Linked DNA regions of Homo sapiens. The protein of the gene in region 2 interacts with the protein of the main gene of each other region in a pairwise test. Each region holds a gene or a part of one and is shown on either strand. Other genes may lie near its edges.

Region 1 (6,867 bases), on a different chromosome or scaffold from region 2:
AAGGAGACACACTCATGAAGCAATAAACATAACAAAATGGGCATCATCAAGAGGTAAAGGGAGTACAAATGCTGAGAATTCCTTGAATAATTCCTGTATTAGGGAAACAAGCTCATGAATGTGCTATTGTGATATCACTATGTGTGCCAATAGACTGTAGTATCAATGTGTTGGAAATTTAAATTTCTGTGTAATATATGCAGTTACTTTTTATTTTCCTTTATAAATGTTCATAGCCTTGAAGCAGAAATAAATCTTTATGCCTCATGAAACTCTAAGAACATTACAGACATTATATTCTTTGTCTTCAAGGTCTCCTTGAGAGAAGAGAGGCAACAAATATGAGTGTTTTCCTGTGACACTATGTGTGAGTCAGTTGTGAGGCCAGGCACAGGCCCTGTTCTATTTATTTTCTTTGAAATATCATTCAATTTTTCATGCTGCTTTTCTCTCCCATAAAATGATTCTGAGATAATGAGACTGAGGTTCCCATTATAGCCACTTTTCCACAGGGCCAGTGCTGCAAAAGACAAAGTACAGGCACATAGACAATTTAGACCACTTATTCAACACCAAGCCGAAAGGTCAGTTCCTTAAAAGATTCAGTCAGACTCATAGGGGATACAGGAAGGCATGAAAGCCTGCTAACAGCTTTTTCACTTTTAAATCAGGCATTCTGAAATTATATAAGCATGTTCTTAAATCCTGAACCGTGTTCCTACCAATGGATTATTTCAGAGATATTTTATTTTTCTGAAACAGTGGTAGAGATTGTGGCTTTATATTGAGTTATTAAAATACCTTCAAAGTCAGTGGACATGCAACCACTTTTATAATTTTTAAAAAGGAGTAACAATGTAAGATTATCTTACTTGTTATCATTTACTTTAATTCTTCAAGATTCATTTTTTAGAAAGGTACATAAAATCCAAAGCTAAAATGAGAAAAGAACCCATATTCTCTTTTAATCTCTTCTTTATCTACATGCATACACAGGGTGCTTATGAATCTACATGTGATAAGGTTTGAGTCCTACCTTTGAAGTCCTCTTTTTCTTCTTCTTCTGGTTTACTCCTTGATCTTTCCTTTTAATGGCGCATTCTTCAATCCTATTTAAGAAAAAAGTCTCTGCAGAATGTAATCCAGATCAAAATCTAAATTTCATAAGTCATTCATATAACTTATAAAGAATCATTTTAATGTTCACAAAAGCATTGACAAAGAAATTCGTGTTTAAGAATTGAGATAGCTTTCTAAAAAACAAAAGTCTAAACTGTATTTTAGAACTTTTCAATGGGTTCTCATAATAATTTATAAAGTGAATGAGATGACATAAAAGGGCTTTGTAAATTATAACACACTATATATGTGCTATTCTCATTTTTACATAACCATATTCCATGTTGTTAGTAATTCCAAATAGGCTGGTCCATTTCTATTTTACAAATTCTAAATTTAAAAAAGTTCCTTGCTTCCTAGATACTTCAGAATGGATCTTTTTTGGTGCTTGGTCTTATAATGTAAAATATATGAGTCCTATAATCACTATATTTTCTGATATGTTTACATACATTTTACACTTCGTAAGGCTCTTTGGATGATTTACTTATTAGGCTGAGTTTTACTCCTATATCCGTTTTCTTCCTATCATGATCATTTTGCTTTCCAGCTGCCTAAGAAAAGCAGGTGCCCATGCAAAATTTGATTAAAAAGCCATTGCCAACTATAAGGCTGTTGGTTTCCTACATTACTCTAGTTATGTGAAATAAGATAATAACTGGGACCATATTTTTTATGGGATCATTAAGAATTCTTTCTAATGAACAGGTCCCCATTTGTTTGCAGGAGAACCTGAAGACTTGAGGTGAGTAAGCCTAGCTGAGGCCTGATAAACTGTTTTCAGCATTTCTAGGGTCAGCCTATATGGACCAAAGCCAAATCGTCAAGACCCATTTACTTTCCCCCAAATTTTGTGAGTGGTGTGTGGGCAGATTTGGGGGAAAGAAGCAAATTATATTAGCCTCCTGGATCTGGATAAGCAAACGAAAACAAGCCAATCATAGGTCACTAAATTCACTACATTCTCCTCTTCTTCCCTCCCCCAACACCTGCCCTCCACCCCCATCTGTATCTCTTTCTTTCCTGTCTCTCTCTGCCTCTCTGAATTACATTTCTCTTCTTTTTTCTGTCAGCTTCTCCATTTTCGCTGAAGATTCCCCACATGCCCTTCACCAAAGGCTGGCCTGATGTGGCGCCCAAGGAGCTCTCCAAGGTTCTGAAAACATTTCTGTTACAGTGCCAGGAACCAATCAAACAAACATTAGCTGTTAAATTCCAGCTCTGTTTTCTTTGAGGCCTCCAGACTCTGTCTGACCCCCACCCTAATGTTCCTGTCTAACAACACAAAGAAGTAGGTCCTGAGATCACGCCAAAACACTGAAACATCTTCAGACGTGGCACAGGAGTGGGGAGGGCCAGTGGGGGCTCAATTCAGCCTGATAAATAAACCAACTTTGCAAACTCTAGATACATATATTTGACTCTTTCCTAATACACAACTTTTCTTATCTTATGGAAAGGAAACTCTAAAGTTTTTAGCTGTACGCCCCTCGTGCCCCACCCCCCAAATTCTTACATAACACAAACCACAAACCACCAAAGCATGGAGCTAGCTCTTCCTAATTTGTATGTTTTCACCGATTTTAATACGCATGTTTTTTGTGGAGATTGGTGCACATATAATAAACGTGAATGAAGGAGGGAGGGAGAGAGAGAAAGAACATTTATGCATGAAGAAGGAGGAAGGAAAGAGAGAAAGGGAGGAGAGGGAGAACTGGAGAAAGACATTTGGAGAATAGAAAGCCGCCACCCCTGGACTCTGCGTGGCTTTACCTACCCCCTCCGATCCCCTGACCCGTGGAGCAAGTGCAGCCAGCCTAGCTGCAGATCTCTCGCTGGGGTCCCATCGCCGTCGCCACCGCCGCCGCTCCGCCTCGTAGAGCTCAGCCCGCGCCTGATTGACAGCTGGGAGTCCCGCGTGCCCGCGCACCCGAGGCCCGCGCAGCCGCCGCCGCCGCCGCCGCCTCCCCCTCCAAAGGGGCAGGGTTCCAGCTTTCCGAGAGCGGCGAGTGGGCGGGGCCGAGCTGTCTGGCGCGCCAGGCTTGTTCCTGCCTGCACCGTGAGGCTGGAGCTTCTGTTAGGGCAGCTGTCAGGGCCATGGAAGGCTGGTCACTGGGCCCTGCCGAGGCTCCCCAGGATGGGCACCTTCTCTGCCTTAGTGCTTCTTCAAAGCTTTTTTCTGCCCAGACCATATTTTGGTCGTAGAAGGCTGGTTCAATATACAGTTAGGCGTCGCATTATGATGGGGATGTGATACTCTGAGAAATATGTGGTTAGGCGATTTCGTCCTGCTAACATCATAGCGTGTACTTTCCCAAACCAAGGTGGTTCAGCCTACTACACACCTAGCTATATGGTAGAGCCTATTGCTTCTAGGCTACAGACCTGTACAGCATGTTACCCTCCTGAATACTGTTGGCAGTTGGAACACAATAGTAAGAATTTGTGTGTCTAAACATAGAAAAGGTACAGTGAAAATACCTTATGGAACCACCGTCATACATAGAATCTGTCGTTGACTCCAACATCACTGGGCAGTGCATGACTGTACATATTTTTAAAATGAGTGAAGAGGCAGATGGTCATGATGTGTGTTTCTTCCACTGCCACCCTATTAGAGATGTTTTCTGTCCCTGATGGGACACAAGGTGAGGAGCTTCTCTTTGCTGGTAGAGCACTGCCCAAATGAAGAACCTTCTCACCTCTTTGAATATTGGGTAGTTTTAATCCTCACTCTTTCCCTTACCCTACCGTCAGGAAGTCCAAATGGGTTTGATGAAAGAAAGATGAAGAAAATAAATTAAATTATGACGTTCAAGAAAAAAGCACAAATGCATAAAGGCAAGAACACATTAGAAAATTACCCGCGAATGCCTTAGAAAATGTGCACAGTTGTGGGCAAGTTAGTGTATAAATACAATAACCTCTGCTTCAGGAGACTTTCTGCAGACCTCTTGTAAGTGGCATTTAATGAGAATAATTACTAAAATAGTTAATATTTGCATGGCTATACTACACATAATAATAATAATACCTAACATTTACATAGTGCTGACTATATGCCAGGCATTGTGTTAAGTACATTACATATATATTAATTATATGTATATTATATCATTTAATCCTCACAGCAACCCAATGTGGTGGGCATTCTCTGATCCAGATTTTACAGAAGAAGCTGAGGTACAGAAAAGTGACACGCACTCAACGGTGATACAGACTCACAATTACTTGTCGAAGGTCATATAGCTACTAAATCTGCAATCTGCAAGATGATCTCCTGGAAAGGGTTAAGGATATAAGTGATATTTTGCCCATTATTTCCTCACTTCCACATAGGTTTCAGGAAAAAGCCTAAAAAACACTAAGAAACACCTCTGTCTTGTTAAACAGTGGGCAGACCAAAGAAAATTGTTGAACCAATGTTTAGGGGGCCACCAAGGACAGGGATGGCTTTGTCTTGTTTCTTCCTCGCGTCCACAACTCTAGCCCAGCCCTCTTCAACACAGCTTAAATATATAGGTGCCACTTATTTCTTTCTCCCTTCCCAGCCTGCATAAAAGTACACCTTTCATGAATTTTAACATATTGCTTGTTAGCTTGCAGTGTGTGGATCCATTGAACACTTAAATGTGGCCGTGTATGTTTTTGCATCCTTGAAAGTCTGTAAGAATCAGCACATATATAAAATTCCAGGGGCTCTGAGCTGCTCTTGTATCAGAGATTAGGCTCCAGGAAGGGAAATGTCTGCCTCGTTGGTGTCTGCTAAGTGTCCTGATCTCTATTGGTAATGCATCTGTTCATTCAGAGGGGTAGTCTAATTAAGACTTACAGTTGGAGTTGCCTCACCACTCTATGCCCCACTTTCCTCATCTATTAAATGTTTCTAATAATACTTAATTCATAGGCTAGTTATTAGAATTAAATGAAATTATATTGATAAGACATCACAGTATCTGGTACATAGTAAGTACTCAATAAATTCTAGCTATTATTGTTATATTATTATTGCTATTTTAATTTTACTATGATTTAGCTAAACATTTTAAAAGCCGCTGAGTATTTCCAGTTTGGAGTCTCAAGAATTCTAAGTTTCCCAGGCACTTATCATTTGCTTTATCTCTTCTTTTGCCAGATTCGGTTCCAACTTGTGCCATCTCTGGCCCCTCTGCTGAAGTTTCCAATAATGTGGAAATGCCTGTTGAGGAAACTGGGAGTAGCACAGGTCTTCTAAATTCCACCAGTACATCTGCTTTTGGCTCACTCTCAACGAAGTAACTGGTGAGATAAAATAAAACATGGTTCACATACCTCAAGATGCCTTTAACATGTGAATTATCACCATTATTTTGCTTTTCACAAATCATAGTTTCTATTTATTAGTTTTGCAAACATTAAGGAACAAAGATGATTACTTTGAAGCAACTGTTTTGACTTAGAACACACCATACAATTTCCTTGGGTTATATTATATGGCAACACTTAGCAGTGAATAGCTTATTAATTTATTATTCAACACACATTTGTTGAATGTCTGCCATTTAGAGCACAAAGGGCGAGGGACAGACAGAAGCATATGAAAGTCCCAGAGAAGAGGGGTCAGGAGAGGCTGTGGTTTCCCCCTGGGTTGTTTTCCAGAAGGGACACTGTGATTAGTCAGACTGCTTTTCTTTCTTTCTTTCTTTTTCTTTTCTTCTTTTTTTTTTTTTAGACAGAGTTTTGCTCTTGTGCTCTTGTTGCCCAGGCTGGAGTGCAATGGTGCGATCTCAGCTCACTGCAACCTCCTCCTCCCGGGTTCAAGTGATTCTCCTGCCTCAGCCTCCCAAATAGCTGGGATTACAGGCATGTGCTACCATGCCTGGCTAATTTTGTATTTTCAGTACAGATGAGGTTTCTCCATGTTGGTCAGGCTGGTCTCAAACTCCCGACCTCAGGTGATTTGCCTGCCTCTGCCTCCCAAAGTGCTGGGATTACAAACGTGAGCCACCGCGCCTGGCTGGCAGGCTGCTTTTCTAACCTCATATCTCATGAATCTCTATTTCTCATCACACTGAACATATCTGGTGTTCTTCACGCACACTTTGCAGCTTTTTTCCCCCCTTCTATTTACTTCAGTGGTTCTTTTCGTTTCTTTCTGCATATCTGTGTCCTCATGTGCTACCTGTTCTTCAAGTCCTGGCACAATTGTCACCTTTTCAATAAAACCTTTGATGTGCTTCAGTACAACTCTTTGTTCTTTGTTTTGTACTCCTAAGCATCTAGTTTCACCTGTGTTAGGGTACTAACAGGTTTTCTTTTTCTTTTATTTTATATTGGAATTATTTTGGTATCTGTTTGCTCTCCGATGTTAGGCTTATAAGCATCACAAAGAAAAGACTTGCCCACAATTTACCTAGTATTCCACGCAATGACTAGCACATTGCTTTGTACAAATTAAGTACTTATTTTTGGCAAATGAATAAATTAGCAAATGAATAATGTGGATCTAGAGACAGTCCTTGATAGGTGGGTAAGATTTGGATAGAAGGAGGCGGGAAAAAGCATATTATGACAGCTTTAGGGCATGAAAAGTACAAGATTCAGCTTGCAAGCTCAGGTCCCAGGTTCGTTCCTGGAATCCAGGGTGTGTAAGAGGAAGATGGGACAGTGGTCAAGAAGGAACTCCATTCAGTTCCTTCATTCAGCTGATGAAAGGCAGAGGCTCCAGCCATATCGTAGTGACCTTTATTGCTCCTCTGATGACTGCAG
Region 2 (6,990 bases):
AAACTCATTTAGTACCTATAATAGCCCTGTTGGGGCACAGTGTGAATTTTACACCCCTCCATTTCAGACTAGAAGACTGTGCAAGAAGACTTTAGCAAAGTGAAGCCATTTGCCCACACCATAGTCAGTTAAGAGGCACTGGGGTCAGCCCCCTTTGGTCCCCTGGGATGGCAGTGGAGTGTTAGGAGGGACGGGTGGAACATTTCCCAGGCATGGAGGTCTGTTTTGTCACTGACTCTGTTTAGAATTGTCAGCACATGATAATCATAAAAAGCAGACCAACGGTGGCTCACACCTGTAATCCCAGCACTTTGGGAGGCTGAGGCGGGCTTATTGCGAGGTCAAGAGTTCAAGACCAGTCTGGCCAGCATGGTGAAACCCTGTCTCTACTAAAAATACAAAAAATTAGCTGGGCATGGTGGTGCATGCCTGTAATCCCAGCTACTAGGGAGGCTGAGGCAGGAGAATTTCTTGAACCTGGGAGGCGGAGGTTGCAGTGAGCTGAGATCACACCACTGCACTCCAGCCTGAGCAAGCCAGACTCTGTCTCACACACACACACACACACACAAAGCAGACCAACTTTTAGTCGGTTTTATGATTGCTTTTAAACTCCCTACTTTAAAAGCACGGCCTTGCGTTTGTGCCCCCTGCATGGAACCTTATGAATAGCTTCTGCTTCCTCCAACACCACTTGAGTCTTGAGGCCCATTCATCAGTGCAGTGCTTCCCTGCCCAGGTCTTAGCAGAATCAATTCCTCGGAAAGGTCAGATGGGAAGAGAAAGAAGAGAAAAGCCCAGTAAGTCCTCTGGAACCCAAGTCAAGCTCCACCTCCTCCAGGAAGCCTTTCCTAATGTCCCTGCTCCTAACTGGGTCTCCCTTACCTGCGCAAAGGAAGAGGTGGTATCCTCTCATGAGGCATGGTGGGGAGGGCCGCCTGGTTGCTTTTGGTCGACCTTTGAAGGTCTTCCTTGCTCACCTGCAGTGGCAATGGCTATTTCACTATTTGGTAAACTCTGTTTATATACCTCAAGTCGACCACCAAGCCTGGCTTCTCCTGCCCCACTGCTCTGGCCCCTTCTTCCTCTTAATGTAAGATATGGAGGAAGAAAAGTTGGTGGGCACGTGATTCTGTGCTGGGCAGGCTGTGGTGGGAGGGATGGGGCGGAGGTAGAAGACACTTCATCAGTGTGTCTGAAAACATGCCCAAGACTCGTTCTGCTGGGTGAGTTCCCCAGGGGTCACTTGCCTTCTCATAGGAAGAAGCAAAATGTCCTGCTCCAGGCAATTCAGAGTTACGGCCACTTTTCCCTCCAAGCTGGGTGAGCATCTTGTTTTAAGATCGTTTTTCTAAGCCAAAATTTCTTATTTTTATTCATGCATGGGTCGCAGCCAGTCTACAAGTGTGGGGATATGTGTTGGGGGTTGGGGTGGTGCAGGCATGGAGGAGCTTCTGGCTTACCAGGAGAAGATGGGAGAATCACTGGCCCAGCCAGGGAAGGATGGGTATTTCCTTCAGCCTCCCTCTCTCAGGCCCTGGAGCATCCTCCCTGCCTGAATCTGATGGCTGAGATAGGCCCACTTATGACTAATCATTCCAGACTCCTCACTTCTATGGCACCTGCACAAACTATGTGCTCAGTAAAGAGTTGTTTGGATAAAGGAATGAGCCAACCAGTCCATCTTGGTGGATGATGAGGGGCTTTCTGCCTTCAGTCAGATGAACTTGAGCCAGCCTGAGAGAATGATCTTACCCAGATCTTCCTCCAAACCGTGTGATCCAGCCCTTCCCCAGCAGCAGGCTGCCCTTCCCTCGAGAGCCCCAAGGCCAGGTGTTGAGAGAAAAGCATGTCTAGGGCCTGGGAGAACCAGAATGAGCTGTAGGCCCCGTGGCCCGGGGCTTTCCTGTGTATGCTAAAAAGTGAGCTCTAAACCAGTCTCCTGGTTTCCACTTCCCCAGGCTTGGTGCTCCTGAGTTTCCTGGTATAGCTCTTCTCCTCCCCGTTGCAGCTGGATCCTGGAAGCCCTCAACAGTGTCTGAATTGCAAGGTGATGGCCAAATACACTAAACCAAAGATATTCCTAAACTTTGCCAAACCCTGCGTCTCTCAACTTCCTTCTCTCCATTCTATTTCCTTCCAATGCCCAGCAAAATGGTTGGTACCTTAATGCCAAGACTTTCATTCTAACCCTTAGACACTCCATAGGTCCCCACAGAACACTGTGCTATTAAGCACTTGATGTGGATTCAACCATATACTCATGAATGTCTGATTTTGTTCTGGGAGGTTTCCCTCCCAGAGGGAAATGCTCAGAGTCCCAGAATTTTCAATGACCAGGGTCCCAGAAGTGGCAAGGAGCTTTGGCCTTTGGAAAAGACCCATCTAGTTTGTTGTTTGTTTTTAGGGTTTGAATCTTCTCTTGCTCTGTGAATGATACGGGATAAGTTGCATTGTCTCTTCTGCCTCAGTTTCCTGTCTCTTTCTCTGGTTTTAACACAAACGTTAATATACTAGATAATGAACATATCTAGATCCACACATCCTGGATTTTCTAGGACAACTCCGATTTCAAATACTTTGTCCACATTGTCAAATCCTGTGTCTGATCCTATAATCTAATTTGGGATAAGAAAATATGGTCTTGAGAGTACTTTGAATTCTTCATTTCAGCAGTGGGCTAGAATGTTATTTACTAATATGTAAATAAAAACCATTCTGATTCTGGGCACTGGTCCGGAATGTGTAATTCTGGCCCAGCAGGAACGCAGCTGTGTTGCTGGAGGCCCTTCCTGGGAAGGCTCTGACAGAGCCTCTCCTTCAGCCCTAGGTCCCCATGTCTCACCCACCCCTGGGCACTGGAGAGAAAAGGGGCCTACTCACCTGCACAGAGTGTCCACAACACAGGCCACATCTTCCCCACCATGGTCTTGCTTCTTCTCTGCCCTAAACCTAACCTGTCACTGGCAGCCTCCAGACAGGTCTGAGCTGTCTGGTTAAAGCTACAGCAGCTTCTGGCCTGGCCCAACTGGAGGTCCCTGCAATTTTCCCTCTTCTCACCCACCTCTGCCCAGCCTCAGCTGGATTGGCAGGTGAGCTCCTCAGCTGGATTGGCAGGTGAGCTGGGGCTGGGCTCATGTGTCACCTACTCCAAAGGTCCCAAGAGGAGTCTTCCCTACTTCCCTCAAGTTCCCCTTAAACCAGCCACCTCCCCTGCCTTCTCCCTACTTAACAAGTGTACAAAGTCCTAGACTGCTCACAAAGGGGTAGGCCTCTCTTATAACTGACAGGAAATAAATAATAAAAAGGGAAATGCACTCAGAGGTAGGGTTCCAAGCTAGTAAAAGAAGGGTGTTGCCCATATTTGCTGAAACACTTCAAGACACAATGTGATCTGTTTCTCTACTTCTCTCCTCTTCTACAGCCTCCACCCCACAGTGCGCAAGAGATATAGTCATGAAGAAAACAGGAAGTCTCCCCCTTCAGAGTTTATATTCTGACTGGGAAAGTAGCAAGTTCATAAGTGAAAGAAGATCATCTTGGGGACATGTGACCAACTTGTCTCACTTTTCCTAGGACTGTCCTGGTTTTCAAACCAAAAGGAACCCCCTCAGTCCCAAGCAAATTTGGATGATGGTCACCCTACTGAAAGAATGATCAGTGGTGTGGGACCATAATTCTCCAGGAGCAGTGGCTGTTGCTGGTTTCTTCCATAGATATTTTAGATATATATACACTGTTCTGCAATGATTTATTCATTTTTCATTTAATGAAAGGTTTTAGAAAGCTTTCTGTATCGGTATGTATAGCACCACCACCATCATCTTTTTAAAATGGGGATGATATTTCACTGTATATGAGTGACATGATTTATTTAACCAAACTACTTTTAAGATTGTTTTTCCTCATCTTTCACAACTATGAAAAGATTGCAACCAATATCTATTATGTGTACGATATTTCACACGTGTTGTGATTATACATGTAAGATAAATTCTTAAAAGTAAAATTTCTGACTCACTGAAAGTTATGCATATTTGTAATTTTTATAGATATTGCTAAACTAGCTACCATGAGAATTTTACAGCCTACACTCCTATTAGCAGCATATAAGGATACCTATCTCCCCACACACTCACTAACACAGTTACCAAGTGTTTATGACACAGTTATCAAACTTTCTGCTCATCGCCAATCTAAGTGAACATGATATCCCATGTATATATAATTTACTTTTTAAAATTATTAGTGAAATTTGGCCAGGCGCGGTGGCTCACGCCTGTAATCACAGCACTTTGAGAGGCCAAGGTGGGCTGATCACGAGGTCAAGAGATCGAGGCCATCCTGGCTAACACGGTGAAACCCCGCCTCTACTAAAAATACAAAACATTAGCCAGGTGTGGTGGTGTGCGCCTGTAATCCCAGCTACTTGGGAGGCTGAGGCAGGAGAATGGTGAACTCGGGAGGCAGAGCTTGCAGTGAGCCAAGATGGTGCCACTGCACTCCAGCCTGGGCGACAGAGCAAGACTCTGTCTCAAAAAAAAAAATTATTAGTGAAATTGAAAATCTTTTAATATAGTTGCACATCATATATATTTTCTTTTCTGAGACTAGGTAGCTCATTTGCCCGTATTTCTTTTTTTAATAAATTTTTAAAAATATAGACACAGAATCTCGCTACGTTGACCAGGCTGGTCTTGAATTCCTGGGCTCAAGCAATCCTGCCTCAGTCTCCCAAAATGCTGGGATTACAGGCATGAGCCACCACGTCCAGCCGTTTGGCCATATTTCTATTGAGCTGTTGATCTTTAGCTTGTTGACTTCTAGCAGATCTTTGTATATTAGGGAAAGGAACTTTTGGATGTGATAAGCATTGCAAATATTTCCCCTAGCATTTCTTTGTGTTATGAATTCATAGTATCCTACATGACTTATTGTTATTAATCCTTTTGACTGCTAGGTTTGGTTGACATACAAAATTTGTTGTTTTCTGTTTATTACATTTCACTCAGGCACCTTGTTAATTCTCTTATTATATGTAATAATTGTTCAGCCCCAACATTTTATAATATCTTTGCCAAATTAGTCTTCCTAATTACTTGTCTGCTTGGGTCCTATCACTGACTCTGCAGAACCTAACAAATTAGCTTTTAAGGTATTCTAGCATTTGTTCTCAAACACAGTCTACCTTCCAGAATACGTAATTTATGCTCTGACCAAGTTAGACATATTTTCATACCCAGAACTCATACTTCCTTACCCCCAAAACTTTATTGATGCCACCCCCTCGGTAATTCCCTTCCCCTACTATATCTGCTATTATAATCTTACTTGTCCTTTAGAAGTCAGCTCATATATCACCACTGCTTCTATGAAGTCTTTCCTGATTTCTTCAGTCAGAAGGGCTCTTTCTCACCTTTGAACTCACACAGCACTCTGGATCTCTTTTAGGACACTAACTACATTCTCTCTTATGCTTGAGTTATTTTTGGTCTGTGTCTCATTCCTCCTAATAAACAGTGAGCTCATTCATTCAGCCATTTCTAATGATACGATATACCAGGCATCATTCCACCTAACTAGGAAGAAAGACAACTTTAAGCTATGTGTTTTGCCAATTTTGGTCAAGTAAAGTGTCATATGTAGTAGGTAATCAATGAATATTTTAAGTTGGTAAATGGATGGATAAATGGATGAAAGGATGACTATGGTATGTGTGGGATGAGAGGTGTGGGCTATTTGGCTTTGCTTTGATCATTGTGATGGTAGAGGGGTTAGTAGGGTAAGACAGCTTATTTGACATTTATGAAGCTCATGGAATTCTTAAGTCACCCAGGGTTGCCAATCCATTATCACCTTGGGGTGTGAGTAGAGGGGAGGAAATGTGGAGGGTGAGCACAACTGTCCAGTTGACCATCCTGAGACATGTCTATTAAAAGAAATGCAGGCAGGGCACGGTGGCTCACACCTGTAATCCCAGCACTTTGGTGGACGGAGGTGGATGGATCACTTCAGCCCAGGAGCTCGAGACCAGCCTGGGCAACACAGTGAGACCCCATCTCTACAAAAAATTTAAAAATTATCTGGGTGTGGTGGCATGTGCCTGTACTCCCAGCTACTCAGGAGGCTGAGGTGGGAGAATCACCTGACCCTGAGAGGTTGAGGCCGCAGTGAGCTGTGATGGCACCACTGCACTTTCACCAGGGCAACAGAGCGAGACCCTGTCTAAAAAAAAAGAAAAAGAAATGTAATCCTGGTCACAAGCAATGACTACTCTTTAATTGTACCACAGTGCTCTCCCAATATCTATCTGTTGAGTACCCTTTCCATTCTATATATCTGGTCCTTTTTTTAGGCCTCTCTAGTTGACATGCGGCTGTGGTAAGTTTGTTTATTCTTCTATATCTTTGGATTTAGACTCTCTTCTGGAAGAACTTTGAATAGGCTGTCCCAGGCAAGAGGGTCTGAAGAGAGAACCCAGAGAAAAGCTGTTCTTTAGATTCTCCATCTACCAAGCACAAACGTCTTCCAATTCTGCTGCTAAATGTAAGCGTCTGGAGAATCAGCCAGGAGGGAAAGAGTTAAGTGAGGACTGCTTTGGGGCCTGGGTCCAGAGCCTGCATTCCTTCCTCCCAGAAATCTGCCAGCCTATGGGGCCAGAGGCTAAATTTAGAGGGTGGCTAAGGTTTCCTGTTAACAGCTGTCCTGCCCCTAGGAGAAGAAGCCCTGAGGAAGGAGGTGGCTGGTTCCTGTCTCACTGGCCGGAGCTTCAGCTTCAGTCATTTCATCTGGGTCCCTCAGCCCTTGGTGGGGAACATCCAGGCAGGTTAGAGGTGAGTGTGCTTCTCCCCTTGTCAATCCTGGTGAGCCCAGGACTTACAATACAAGGGGCAGCGGCTTTGCCCTGAGTGTCAGGGCACAACCATGATGGCTGGGACCAGCTGCTGGTATCCTTCATGTCCTTTAATAGGCTCCAGGATGACGCCTGAG
Region 3 (7,987 bases), on a different chromosome or scaffold from region 2:
GCCAATGAATGGGAAATAAGGCTACTGCTGAGGATGAGGAAACCCATGGAAACCTCTCCCGTATGTGGGGGCCCCATCAATATTCTGTCGACCTGGATTCTATCCCCACCTGCCACTAACAGGCTAGGTGACCTTGGGCAATTCTCAAACTCTCCGTGCCTGCATTTCCACATCTGCAAAATGGGGGTAACATGGTAGTGACCTCATGGCATTATCAACACATTAAAAGAATTTAAACCTGTAAAACTGGCAGAATAGTTCCTGGTGCAGAATAAGTGTCTGGCAAATGTCAGGGGAGACCAGCCCTGACTCTGCTGCCAGCACTGTGACTGCTGTCACCGCTGCACCCCAGCACCTCAGCACTCCATACACGTTCTCAGAACAGATTCTCATTTATAACCCAACTGTGTCACCACCCCTCAGAAGCCATGTCACCTGAAACAGGTGACATCGCCTCCCTGAACTCTGACCGTTAGCAACACGTTGCTGTTGTTCAGGTTAAGAGAGGTCTTACGTGAGAGACATCTGGCTCCAAGCACAGTGGAGTAAGAGGCACTGCCAGAAACTTCTGCATCCTGGAGGACTGTAACCTTCAGCCCAGTGACCTTGGGTATGTCCCATAAATGCTCTGAGGCTCAGTTCCCTCATTGTGACCTTAGAAGCCTTCTGGAAAATGATCCCAAGAGCCATAACCCTTGTACCCACACTCAGTCCCGGCGGGAAGTCCGGGATGGAAGGTCTGGCTGGACCCGAGAAGAGCATCCCTGCTGGCTGCCCCGCTTCGGACGCTTGCAGAGAGAGCAGACTCATCACCTTTCCGAGCTGCCTAGGCTACTCCTGGTCGACCTAATTAGTTGGTGAGGATTTCATACCTGCCTGAAACCCTCCTCCCTGTATAAACCAACTGTGCCAAATGGTTCTGGAATGGAACAGACTGAGGACAAGAGAGGAGGCTCAGGCCAAGTGAGGGGAATCACCTGATAGAGGTGCTGCCTCAGGACACGGAGTTCCTGGCACAGGCGCCACTGCTCCTCAGCCGAGCAGCTGGGGGCCCAGGCAGGAGGGGGTGTGGGGGCCTCGGGGCCAGGCCCCGCTAACTGGACGAGTCTGATGCCTAGACAGGGAGGGGTGGAGTGGAAGCTGAGGCCTCAGGCAGCCCTGCCCCTCCTGCAAAGCCTAGCCTGGACCATCAGTGGCCCAGAGTGGCACCACCGTGGCCTGGGGGGCACAGGTGTGGCCGGCTGATCCCCCTTTCTTGAACTGAAACCCCCGCTGCCAGCCTCTTCCCGGCTCCTGCCTCCCTCCCCAGACGACACACACAATAAAGCTGGGAGGACACCTTCACAGGGGTCAGGGCCCCCACCAGGACACCCCCACCCCACAACACCCACCCCGTCAGCAATCACCAACTTGCTGGAACGAAGACAGAGCCCTGGCTCAGAGCCCCTTCACCAGGGACTAAATGAGAAAATAAATAGAAAAGCACTTCCGGGAATTATTCGTGGCTGTGGTGGTTCGTAAGCGGCAGCAAGATGCTGAGAGTAGATGCTGTGTCTATGGTCTTAGATGTGAATTTTACAGTACAATTGCCTAGACATGCAAAGATCTATTTACATTTTTAAGTGTTAACTCTTGGAAATATTATTCTTAGCAAACAGAAACTACTTAATTGGATGCTACATTCAAAAAGAGGAGATTCTTTAAATTCAGCAGAAAACACTTTGGGGAAAGGTTGATGAATGGTTTTTCCCAGTGACACCAATACTGAGCGAGCCCGGGCACTTATTTGGAGATTTCACAAAAGGAACAAAGAGGAAGGAGACCCTGTGTGAGCGCGCACACCCTCCTGCACCTAGCGCCAGCCTGGCAGGGGCAGGCAGAAAGGGCGAGAACAATTCAGCCCTGGGGAGGGGCCATCTGACCAAGGAGAACGCTCCCCCGCCTCGGTGGGGCAAGTCGGGCTGAACTGCCACACCCGGGAAGGTACAGGGGCAGCCTCGCCCGCCCCTAGGCTCACCCCCGATCCAGAGCCCCTGGGGCCACGGGGCAAGGGAGGAGCAGGGCAGCTGCGGGGCCAGGGCCCTCTCGGATGAGGCTCCCAGGAAAAACGCGAAGGAATCTTGCCCCACCGCGTTCCACTGTCAGGACGAGAATATCATCTAAGGCAGGGCTCCCCTCCCCCGCCCAGCATCCCGCGATCCAGAATCCCGCGCGGGTACACTGTCCTCGCCGCGCTCCCTCCGGCCTCCCGAGCCCGCCCCCACTTCGCGTACCCAGCGCACGCGGCGCGTTTCTTTTGTTGCGCCCGCCGTGCGAGATTTGGGGGTGCACACCCGGCAACGTGGAGGGGCGTGGGGGGGCTTACCTTATCCGGGGGCGGGAACTGCAGCTGATTGACATCGAGGGGCGTCATCAGGGGAATGGTGTCGAAGCCATCCTCCAGCAGCGGCTGCTTGGTGCCCTTCTCTGCGAAATTGTTCCCCAACTTCACCATCGTTCCGGGAGCTCCGAGGCTGCAGCCTGCGGCGGGAGGGCCGGGGGGAGTCACCACAAGCAAGACCCGGGGCGGGGCGGGGGGGAAGTGGGCACCCACACCCACCGGCGTCCCGGCGTCCGCGAGCTCCCCGGCCCCGCTTCGTCTCGGGGAGGGCTCGTGGGGACGCGGTGGTCACGGCCCGATGCGGGGGTCGGGTGGTGCTGTGTATTTCTAGACCCTCATCTCGCAGGACCCAAGCGCCGGGCGCAAGGGCGCACCGCGGCCAGGGAAGGGGGCGCCGCCCCTGCCCAGCACCTCCAGACCCGGTCCCCGGTCCTGGGGCCGCCGCACCCGGGCGACCCGCTGTTCACAGCCCCGTCCCGCGTACTCCGGGAGATGGGCATCCCCCGGGCACTGCTCCTGGGCGGGCAAGGTCTGGCCTCGGCAAGCCCAGGCGCGGCCGGCCGCACTCACCCACGCCCGGCTCCGGCAGGTCAGCTGAGCGCTCCGAGCTCCGCGTCTCCTGCTCCTGCTCGCAGCAATGGCGGAGGCGGCGCCGCGCGCGGACCCGGGAAGGGGAGCGAACGATTGGGCTCCACGGCCGCTCCCTCCTCCTCGCGCCGCCGCCTCCCTTCCTGCCTCTCCCGGGGGCTGGGTGCGCGCGGGTGGGTGCGCGCGTGTGGCCGCGCCTCCACCTTGACGCAGCGCCCGCCCGGCCGCACAAAGGAGTGCGGGGCTGGGCGGGAGCCTCCCCTGGGACCACGCGCCCGCCCTGAGCCGGGGGAGGGAACAGGGGAGCGGGAGAGGACGCGCCCCCAGGGGGTCTCGGAGCGGCGGAGGGCGCCCGGAGCGGGAGGGCTGCGGGCTGCGCCACCCCGGGCGGCGGCCTGGGCGCGAGGCGCTTAGAAAGGAGAAAGGGGAGGCGGGGACCGTAGGGACAGAGCGACCCCCAGGGGTGCGGGGAGGTGCAGAGAGGGTCCCCGCCCGCAGCGCGCCGCGCTCACCTGGGGGTCCTGAGGACGTTCAAGGGTTTGGGGGGATGGGTCCAGGAGGCGCTGGGTGGTGGCGGAGACCAGAGCAGGGTGCTCCTTAGTGCTGGGTTGGGGAGGGGGCGACCAAAAGAGGGCGCGTCCGCGTATAAAGGGGGCGCGGCCCGTAAAGGAGGCGCGGCCCGTAAAGGAGGAGGAGGTTTTCGGTGGTGCGGGAGGCGGAGTAGCGCTCTCCCAGGGCTGGGGTGTGGGCGCCCAGGGTGAGGCTGCCCCAGGCAGCGGGAGGGAAGTCGTTCTAGGCAAAGAGCGCTCAGTGCGCCGCTTGGAGGGAGGCGGAAAGGTTCCTCCGCTCTGGTTGGCAGAGAAGGTGGAGGTCCCACTGCAGCCGCCGCCCGAGCATCCTGGGCACAGAGGAGGGGCCGCTGGGACGATGCCCGGACGCGGAGAGAAGGGGGGTGGTTCTAGCCCGACCTGCGCCCCCAAACCCCGAGCTCAGCCGCTGTCGCGGCTTCCCAGAGAGGGTCCTGTTTGCAGACCTCCAACCCGTCCTGCCTGCAGGACTCACGGATGAAAGACTATGGGGTGTGGGGGCGAGGCCGAAATGGGAGTGGAGCCCGCGCGGGAGGAGGCCGGCTGCGGGGATCGGTGCCTCCTGGGCACCTGGGCCAGGAGCTGGGCCCTGTCAGGCGCTGGACGAGGAGGAGGCATCACCCAAATTCGATACTTTTTCACACCCTTTCCGGGGACTTCCCCGCGGCACTACGGAGGGTCCGGGGCGTTTTCCATCAGCCGTCTGAGAATCCTGGGAATAAGCCCAGAGCACAGGAGCAGCCACCGCCTTGAGCCCCAGGCACAGCCTGGGAACTTGCCGCGGGTGCCCTGATTTCAAAATCCCCAGGAGGGCTAGCCGTCTTTGACAGGTGACCTAGTGGGTATCTCGTAACTCGCCCCAACTCTCCAGCCAGGGTCTAAGTGTGCCTTTGACCACAGGCCAGCCTGGTCTGAACCCAGGCTCCTGGCAGAGGCACCCCGCCCCCAACCCAGGGAAAGCGGGTGTCAGACTCTGGCCCCTGCCACGGGCCTCGGGGACCCACAGAACCCACCTTTTTGGCACTTTGATGCCTCCCTGAAGCAGGTGAAGAAGAGAAGATTTCTCTTGCTCCACTTCAGAAATCTGCCCAGGCATCTGCCATGAGAGTGACCCACTGGTCAGGAGAAACCCTTTGGGCTTAAGCAAGGAAATGGCTTTCCCGCACCCCCCCCCGCCCCGCCCCCCGTCTCAGGCTCAAGCATTTAACAGAACCCAACACACACGCGCGCGCGCAAACACACACACACACACACACACACACACACACACACTTGGTCAGAATTCCACACCAGGAGGAACAAAGTGGAGGCCCTGCCCCTCCCTTAGAGACTCTGTCAACTGAGGAGGACAGAAAGGCAAGAAGGACCTAGGTTGTCCCAGAGATGGACGGTGAACAATCATGTTTCTCTGCTAGCTGGCCTTTTGTGCTGTCTTGGGTCTTCACTGGTGCTGGTCATTGGGACTGTTTCATCCTGTGGTTTTCTTCCTCTGCTGATTGTATCTGGGCCCTGTGAAGGGCATGGACAATGCAAAATGCATGAGACACAGCGCCACCCGCAGGGAGCTACGGACAAGGGCAAGTCTTTGCTGGGAGCAGTGGCCCTGTGGGAGAGTGGCCTCTGCCTCTTGCCAGGAGGGAGGACATCCAGAGACTGTGGGTAAAGACTGTGGATAAAGCTTCCTACAGGTGGGCCTGAGAGAGGTGCGTGCAGAGGGGAAGGCATTCCAGGTAGGAGAACAGAATGTGTTAAGACAGTATATGAGCTTCCTGCCACTGTTGGAACAAATTTGGCTTAAAACAATAGAAACATGTTCTCTCCTGGCTTTGGAGGCCAGAAGTCTAAAGTCTAGGTCCCAGCAGGGCCTCACTCCCTCTACAAGCCACAGAGAAGAACCTGTTCTTTCCCCCTCCAGCTTCCAGTGGCTCCAGACATTCTTTGACTGTGGCTGCATCACTCCAATCTCTGCCTTCATGTCACTCCAGTCATATTGCCTCCTCCTCTTCTCTGTGTCTCTTATAAGGACACTCATCATAGGATTTAGGGCCTGCTGGGATAATCCAGGATAAGGTCTCCCTCTCAAAATCCTTAACTTAATCCTATCTTTGCCATATAAGATAATGTTCACTCTTTTACTATGTAAGGTAAATCAGGTTCCCGGGGTTAGCATGTGGACATATCTTTTAAGGGTCGCCATTCAGCTCACTACAGGCATTAAGCTTGCAAGGGTGTGGTGATTTGGAGAACCCAAGTCATTCACAGAGGGTGGCAGAAATTAGGTTGAAGAAGCCACAGCCACCAAAATGGGGATGGCTGAGGCTGCAATGGTGGTTGCAGGTCAAACAGATGTCAGGTATTTTCACAACATACAAAAAGGGAAAATCAATGGGATGCGATCTCCCCCTGGACCAGTTTCATCCCAGCACCAACAATTTAAAATCCAAGTGCCACAGAAGATTGTTGACACATACTCAGTTTTTCTAAATGACTCTTTTTTTTTTTTTTTTTTTGGGACGGAGTCTTGCTCCGTCGCCAGGCTGGAGTGCAGTGCCGTGATCTCAGCTTACTGCAACCTCCGCCTCCCTGGTGCAAGTGATTCTCCTGCCTCAGCTTCCTGAGTAGCTGGGATTACAGGCACGTGCCACCACTCCCAGCTAATTTTTGTATTTTTAGTAGAGACGGAGTTTCACCATATTGGTAAGGATGGTCCTGATCTCCTGACCTCGTGATCCACCTGCTTCAGCCTCCCAAAGTGTTGGAATTACAGGAGTGAGCCACTGCACCTGGCCCTAAATGACTCTTTTAGGAATACTTCCAGGGTTGCTGATCTCAGGCACAGACCCATCACTGCCTGTACGATTGTAACTCCTACCCTGCTCCCTCTCCTCAGGGCAGCCAGGCGCTGCTCTCTAATGACCCTGGTACTTCCAGGTCCAAGCGTTTTAGCAACTTCCCTTGTCCCACTGGTTGAAGTCCAGACTGTCACAGCAAGAGACAATGTGACACAGTGGCTAAGCCGTGGCCCGATTTTGAATCCTGTCCCTCTCTTCCTAGCAGTGTGACTTCAGGCAAGCTGCTTAACCTTTCTATGCTTCAGTTTCCCCATCTATAAATGGAGATAATGAAACCTCCATCAGAGCAGTGTTGTGAGAATCAAATGAGCTATTCTTATTTTTTTAAGTGCCTGTTTTAGGTATTACTATTGCTTTGACCTCTAATTCTGTACTCCTGTGGTCTCTATTCTTAGCAGCCGGTGCTGGAGCCAGGGCGAGGTGATAGACACTTTTCCTGGTTATGTGACAAGTGTTCAGAGTGACTAAGGTGACTCTTCCCCTAGAGGCCTCATGAGCCTCTTTGCAGGTCACAGAAGTCAAATGATGAGTCCCCGGCCACAGGCTTCCCTGCAGAGCTGGGATGGGTTGCAGGATCTAGTCAGGCCTCCCACAGCCAGCCAGATCTCCAGGATGGATGAGGTCCTGCTGGGAGGGTGGCCACCCAGTGCTGTCAGCCTATGGAGGTTCAGTGGCAGGTGATCAGCAGAGGTTCTGCTCTGTTTTTCTGCAGCCTGGCCACGTCGATCCAGCGATGCTTCATCCAAATGTCTTGTTTTTAGATTGAGATGTAATTCACATGCCACAGATATCACCAGTTTAAAGTATACGCTTAACTGGTTTTAGTATATTTACAAGGTTGTACAATCATCACCACTAATTTCAGAACATTTTCATCACCCCGTAAAGAAACCTGCATCCCACAACAGTCACTCCCTGCACACATCCTCATCTCTGATGGTTTTAAGTTTCTTGGGTCCACTTCTCAATCCACGGGACCAGCCGGCACGCTGGGACCAGCCGGCACACTGGGATCAGCCGGCACACTGACACAGAATCGGGAGAGACATTAGGCTCTGGATCTTTCTGCAAATGGGACAATCCATTTGCAATGTGAAGAATCAGCCCACCTGGGTGAAGTCATCCCTGTTTCTCCTTAAACCCTGTCCTGTAGCCAAATTCTCCATTCCCCCAAGTGCCTGCCTCCAGGCCTTTGCAAATGCTGCTTCTCTTGCCTAGATTGCCTTCCCCACTCCTCATCGATTTTGCAAACTGCTCCTCATCCTCCAAAGCCCAGATCCAATGTTGCCTCCTCTTTGAAGCTTGGCCTTTCTTTATGCTCCTCTATCCCGGAGTCTGGGTATTTACATTTCTATATAGATCATGAGCAAATCAGGCAGAACCACTTAATCTTTCATTTCCATATCCCCCCTGTCTAGAGCATGGCCTGGTAATCAGGAAATGTTTGCTTAATTGAATAGGCATCCACTTAGCTTACATTCACAGTAAAGTAAGACATGAACATCAGAGGTGTAAATTCGAATTCAAGTGCATAGTAAGAAAGTCAGGTCAGGCCTGGTGGCTCATCCCTTTAATCACAG

Evidence for each region. Proteins that work in one complex are often made in the same cells at the same time.
Region 1: the proteins of GPA33 (region 2) and NRSN1 interact in binary tests that used the Homo sapiens proteins (3 or more experiments, as listed by UniProt).
Region 3: the proteins of GPA33 (region 2) and NSG1 interact in binary tests that used the Homo sapiens proteins (3 or more experiments, as listed by UniProt).

What each region holds. Positions count from the first base shown.
Region 1 is NC_000006.12:24,122,370-24,129,236, reverse strand, and holds the start of NRSN1 (neurensin-1), read right to left. Parts: upstream 3,023-6,867; 5' UTR 2,897-3,022; intron 1,110-2,896; 5' UTR 1,037-1,109; intron 1-1,036. UniProt on the Homo sapiens protein: May play an important role in neural organelle transport, and in transduction of nerve signals or in nerve growth. May play a role in neurite extension. May play a role in memory consolidation.
Region 2 is NC_000001.11:167,087,362-167,094,351, forward strand, and holds the start of GPA33 (cell surface A33 antigen precursor), read right to left. Parts: upstream 3,017-6,990; 5' UTR 2,927-3,016; coding exon 2,884-2,926; intron 2,051-2,883; exon of another isoform or gene 1,962-2,050; intron 1,324-1,961; exon of another isoform or gene 1,239-1,323; intron 1-1,238. UniProt on the Homo sapiens protein: May play a role in cell-cell recognition and signaling.
Region 3 is NC_000004.12:4,382,137-4,390,123, reverse strand, and holds the start of NSG1 (neuronal vesicle trafficking-associated protein 1), read right to left. Parts: upstream 3,023-7,987; 5' UTR 2,951-3,022; intron 2,521-2,950; 5' UTR 2,495-2,520; coding exon 2,366-2,494; intron 2,139-2,365; coding exon of another isoform or gene 2,018-2,138; intron 1-2,017.